2 separate regions of the Homo sapiens genome follow, and region 1 is linked to region 2. The links come from fine-mapping of genetic effects on gene expression. A gene starts in region 2. The other region holds a variant in brackets. All regions are shown on one strand. Distances are from middle to middle. Region 1 overlaps LOC107984530 (a long non-coding RNA gene). Region 2 holds the start of RAB21 (RAB21, member RAS oncogene family).

Evidence for each region. PIP is the estimated chance that this variant, and not a neighbour inherited with it, causes the effect.
Region 1: its variant is the best candidate, but not a certain one, in a credible set for the expression of RAB21 in nasal epithelium (TOPMed, PIP 0.73).

Annotation. Positions count from the first base shown.
Region 1 is chr12:71,725,355-71,728,267 of GRCh38, reverse strand. All of the region lies in intron 2 of LOC107984530 (a long non-coding RNA gene), which reads right to left. Among named protein-coding and RNA genes, the nearest start is that of RAB21, 28 kb to the left of the region's middle. RefSeq lists an enhancer at 1,801-2,913 and a silencer at 2,813-2,913. The variant T/C (reference allele first, on the strand shown) is at 1,586.
Region 2 is chr12:71,753,275-71,756,187 of GRCh38, reverse strand. RAB21 (RAB21, member RAS oncogene family) reads right to left here and starts at 1,325. Exons shown (of 7, transcript NM_014999.4): 1 at 900-1,325. The coding sequence starts at 1,058. RefSeq lists enhancers at 434-623, 1,264-1,553 and a silencer at 1,004-1,283.

The DNA of each region.
Region 1 (2,913 bases), 28 kb after region 2:
TATCCTCGGGGATCGTGAGTTCTTGGGAGATCTGGTTGTTTGAGTGTGTAACACCTCCCCACCCACTCCCTCTCTTGCTCCTGTTTTCACTATGTGACATGCAAGCTCCTGCTTTGCCTTCCGCCATGAGTCAAAGCTTCCTGAAGCCTCCCCAGAAGCAGATGCCTGCACTATGTGTCCTGTACAGTCTGCAGCACTGTGAGCCAATTAAACCTGTTTTCTTATAAATTTACCAGTCTCAGATATTTCTTTATAGCAATGCAAGAATGGCTTAATACGGATGGCTAGTAATTTAGTCAAATAAATATTTTGGCATTTGTTGATCTCACTGTATATTTTTCTCTCTTTAAATTGTTATAGTAACGGATTATGTTGGTAGATTTCCTGATGTTCAAACATTATTGCATTCCTGAAACAAATCTTGCTTGAATTTTTTTTTAATACCAGACTACAGTTTTTACTTTTATTTAGAAAATGGATTTTCAATTTATTCTGACATCCTAAAATAAATTGGGAAGTGTTACAATCTAAGTAATACCTTAAAAAAAAGCAATTATCTGTTCTTTAAAAGTTGTCAAAGGCTCTGGTACCAGAGCCTTTTTCAAGTGGTAGATTTTATTTTATCATCTTCATACTGGGCATGGTGGCTCATGCCTATAATCCCAGTACTTTGGGAGGCCAAGGTGGGAGGATTGCTTGAGCCCAGGAGTTCAAGACCATTATGTGCAATATAGGGAGACCATGTCTCTACAAAAAAATTAAAAGTTAGCTAGGGGTGGTGGTGTGCACCTGTAGTCCCAGCTACTCAGGAGGCTGAGGTGGGAGGATTGCTTGAGCCCAGGAGTTCAAGACCATTATGTGCAATATAGGGAGACCATGTCTCTGCAAAAAAATTAAAAGTTAGCTAGGGGTGGTGGTGTGCACCTGTAGTCCCAGCTACTCAGGAGGCTGAGGTGGGAGGATGGCTTGAGCCTGGGAGGTCAAGGTTGCAGTAAGCTGTGACCATGTCACTGCACTCCAGCCTGGGTGACAGTGAGACTCTGTCTCCAAAATAATAATTTAGCCAGGCATGGTGACAGGTACCTGTAGTCCCAGCTACCCAGCAGGCTGAGGTGGCAGGATCACCTGAGCCCTGGCTTATAGATGGCCACCTTTTCACTGTGTCCTCACATAGTAGAGAGAGACAGCTCTGGTGTCTCTTCTTTTAATAAGTCACCAGTCCTATTGGATTAGGTCTCTGCCCTTATTACCTTATTTAACCTTAATTACCTCCTTTTAGGCCCTGTCTCCAAATATAGTCACATTAGGGGTTAGGGCTTCAACATATGGATTTTGGGGAAACAAATCAGCTCATAGCACTCCACCCCTAACCCCCAACATTCATTCCCTTATTACATGCAGAATATGTTCAGTCCATTCCAACAGCTGCAAAGGTATTAACTCACTCCAGCATGATTTCTAAAGTCTAAAGTTCAGTCTCATCTAAACATCATCTAAATCTGATTGCGCTATCATAACAAAATACTGCAGACTGGGTGGCTTGAACAACAGAAAGGTATTTCTCAGAGTTCTGGAGACTGGAATG[T/C]CCTAGATCAAAGTGCCAGTTGGTTCAATTCCTGGTGAGGACTCTCGTGTAGATGACTGTCTTCTCACTGTGTCCTCACATGGCAGAAAGCAAGAGAGAGCTCTGATGACTCTTCCTTTTCTTTTTTCCTTTGTTCTTTTTTTTTTTGAGATGGAGTCTCACTCTGTTGCCAGGCTGGAGTGCAGTGGTGTGATCTCGGCTCACTGCAACCTCTGCCTCTCAGGTTCAAGTGATTCTTCTGCCTCAGCCTCCCAGTTAGCTGGGATTACAGGGGTACATCACCACACCCAGCTAATTTTAGTAGTTTTAGTAGAGATAGGGTTTCACCATATTAGGCAGGATGGTCTCGATCTCTTGACCTTGTGATCTGCCTGCCTCAGCCTCCCAAAGTGCTGGGATTACAGGCGTGAGCCACCAAGTCAAGCCCCCTTTTCTTATAAGGCATCAACCCTATCATATTAGGGTCCCACTCTTAATTCCCTCCTTATAGGCCCTTTTTCCAAATATTGGGGATTAGGGCTTCAATATATGAATTTTTAGGGGACACAATTTAGTCCATAGCACTATCTCTTTTGTAAAGATTGTAATTTTTTACAGAGTACCAATTTTTGGTAACATATTTAACTAAAAAATTATTCATTTGCTTAAGGCTTTCAAATTTGTTGCTGTAAAATTGGCGGTAGTAAGACTTCAAAAGATTCATTAAAAAATGCATATTACAAAAAAAAAACTGTGCACAAATTCCAAAATTTGTTTCCACCGAAGCAAACTTGTACTAACTTGTTATAACATGTGAAAGATACAACATCAGGTTGAAAAGAGCCCCAATCAAAGCAACATGAATTCTCCTAAAATTTAAGCAAGAACAAACATCAAATTTATGGGGAAGCTTGAGTGGAAGAATGGTGAAATCATTGATGCTTTCCAAAAAGTATATGAGGACAATGCCCCAAAGAAATCAGCAGTTTACAAATGGATAGCTTCTTTTAAGATGGGAAGAAATGATATTGAAGATGAAGTCTACGGTGGAAGATCATCCAATTTTTGAGGAAAATACTAATCATGTTTGTGCCTTAACTGAACAGGACTGATGAATAACAGCACAAACAACAGCCAATACCATAGACATCTCAATTGGTTCAGTTTACGCAATTCTGACTGAAAAGTTGAGCGAACTTTCCATTTCATGGGTGCCAAAACTGTCGCACCAGATCAGTTGCAAACAAGAGCAGAGGTGCAAACAAGAGCAGAGCTTTCAATGAAAATTTTAAACAAGTGGGATCAAGATTCTGACGTACTTCTTCAAGGAATTGTAACTAGAGATGAAA
Region 2 (2,913 bases):
GACAATCAGGCTCAAAAGTCCACTAGACTTTACTGCCTTTGACCAAATTGGTAAGTCAAATTAGTAGGATAAATTTCTCCTAATAACATCAAAACTGATTTCTCTGGGAGAGGTGGGGTGAGTACAACTCCCTCAAAGGCCTGGCTTCACTCTCAATCAATGATAACATTTTAACACCTTTCCAATGTACCTGTGGAAGAAAGCCGACCTTTTATTTTACAGGTAAAGAAACTGAGTAACAGCAGCGGCTTTTAGTCTGGGGACCAATTGTTGGCCAGTATTCACTTGATGTTTCAGCGTGGGTCAATCGACCTCGCAGAATATGAGTGACCCGCAAGTCAGACCCACGCAGGCTGCAATGAAACTGCGTAACACGCCTAGGCAAGCGGTCATTTCAAAAAACCTCCAGAGATGGCTCTTTTGCCATTCCTGTTACTCAGGACAAAATGGAACTTGCATAAACACTTAGTCATCAGTAAGCGCTGAAGTTACAAATCACCTAATTCGCAAAATCAAATACGCAGCTAAGTTCCTAATTCTGAAAGAAAGAAAAGGAGCTAACATTTGGAGACTGCAACACTGACACCTGGGACCCAGGAACTGCAGTAAATGGGAAAAAACAGCCCACGGACGGAGACCACAACGTGCGCAGCCACCACGGGGAACACTGGGGACTTTTCAGGGCCCTTCCACTTCCCTCCCAACAGCCTGTCCTCGCGTCTACAGGCTGCCCCGACCTGGTGATTCCCCAGGGCGAATTCGGAAAGGTAAACCGAAGGCGGAGATGACAGGCCTGAGATTTGCCAGCCTACATCCAGGGGACCAGGGCGGCAAAGTTTCCCCAGCCCCGGAGGGGTAGGGGCCCTGAGGCGCCCCCTCCCGCTCCCCGAGGTCCGCACCTGCAGAGTGGTGATGTGCTTGTCGTTAAACTTGTTCTCGCAGTAGCGCAGCACCAGCGACGTCTTCCCCACGCAGCCTTCCCCCAGCAGCACCACCTTGAACGAGTAGGCTCGGCCCGCCGCCGCCGCCCCGCCGCCGCCGCCGCCGGCCGCAGCCATCCCGTCGCTTCCCGGCCGCCCGAGCCCGAGTGTCGCGCCGCCCTCCCGACAGCCGCGGCAGCGCCTTCACAGCCACGGCCGGCTCAGCCCCCACCGCCCCGGCCCCGCCGACCCGGGCGCTGTCCCCACGCCCTCCTCGGGCGAGGCCTGGAAGGGCTGAGGGAAAGTCCGAGAATGAAGGGCCCCAGCCCACCACGTCAGGCACCGGAGGAAAAGCGAAGAACGATCCCTCTCTGCCTCCCTCTAATGGCGTCTCCTTCCTCCTACGTCACACCTCGGGTCACGTGAGCGCCGGTGCCGGGGCGGCCCCTGCGACTAGCCCCAGAAGAACGTGCCTGGACGTGGGCGGGGCTTCTGGGGCATCTCCCGGGGTGGAGCTGGATGTGAGTCGAGCGCCTACTGGCAATCTAGGGCAGAGCCCCGCCGCTTGCGAGCCACCTCTGCTTTTCAGTTGGTGGGAGCCAGCGGGAATAAGGAACCAGGAATTTGAGGCGAGCCCAGCTCTGGTGAAATGAAGGGCAGAACTTCATCGTTTTTGCATGTTCACAATGCTAATGATCTGTCACACCAGAGGTCACTGTAAACCATATCTGCCAAGGTGCCCTTGAATCTCTCTCTGTGGGATCCCGAATCATAGCGCTTCCAAGTTCCTCTGACCGCCTGGTCAACTACTCCATCATCTTTCAAGTCTCAGCTTAAACCGCGTCCCTGACCACCCAATCCTTCCCCCATCCTTCCATTCCCCCACCTCACAAAATTAGGTATTTCTTACCACCAGTATACCTCCTTTACTAGGGCTTTACACACTCCATGGATATTATTAATACTTTGCTAAGTGTTTATCGACTCTCATTAGACTATAGGTTTGTTGAGGGCAAGGTCTGTATAAGAGCTGCCCACCTTTGAATTCCTAACCCCAAGTGCTCTTCAGTTTTTCTGACTTTCATGAAGCCTCTGACGTTCCATGGTACTCCACCTTGAGGTGGCTTGTTCGATGATTGCTTGTTTTTTCTCATCTGCATCCCCATTCTTTTTTGTTTGTTTGTATTGTTAGTTTTGAGATGGAGTATCGCTCTGTCGCCCAGACTGGAGTGCAGTGGCGTGATCTCAGCTCACTGCAGTCTCTGCCTCCTGGTTCAAGTGATTCTCCTGCCTCAGCCTCCCGAGAAGCTGGGACCATAGGCGCCCACCACCGCGCCCCGCTACTTTTTGTATTTTTAGTGGAGACAGGGTTTCACCATGTTGGCCAGGCTGGTCTTGAACTCTGACCTCAAGTGATCCACCTGCCTCGGCCTCCCAAAGTGCTGGGATTATAGGTGTGAGCCACCACGCCCGGCCTGCCTCCAAGAAACCATACTCCTCCAAGAAATCATACTAATATTTCTGAAAATTTACTGGAAACCTGGTGTCAGGTAAACATTTTTTTAAAAATCAAACTTCTTTCACACTTCAAACCAGGTTAAAAAAAAAAAAAGAGGCCGGGCGTGGTGGCTCATGCCTGTAATCCCAGCACTTTGGGAGGCCGAGGCGGGCGGATCACAAGGTCAGGAGATCGAGACCATCCTGGCCAACATGGTGAAACCCCATCTCTACTAAAATACAAAAAATTAGCTGGGCATGGTGGCACAAGCCTATAATCCCAGCTACTCGGGAGACTGAGGCAGGGGAAGCGCTTGAACCCGGGAGGCAGAGGTGGCAGTGAGCCGAGATCGCGCCACTGCACTCTAGCCTGGCGACAGAGGAAGACTCCGTCTCAAAAAAAAAAAAAAAAAAAAAGAGAGTCGGTTAATTCATTCAACAAATATTTAAATGTGCCCACCATATGCCAGGCACTGTGATCAACAAGATAAAATGT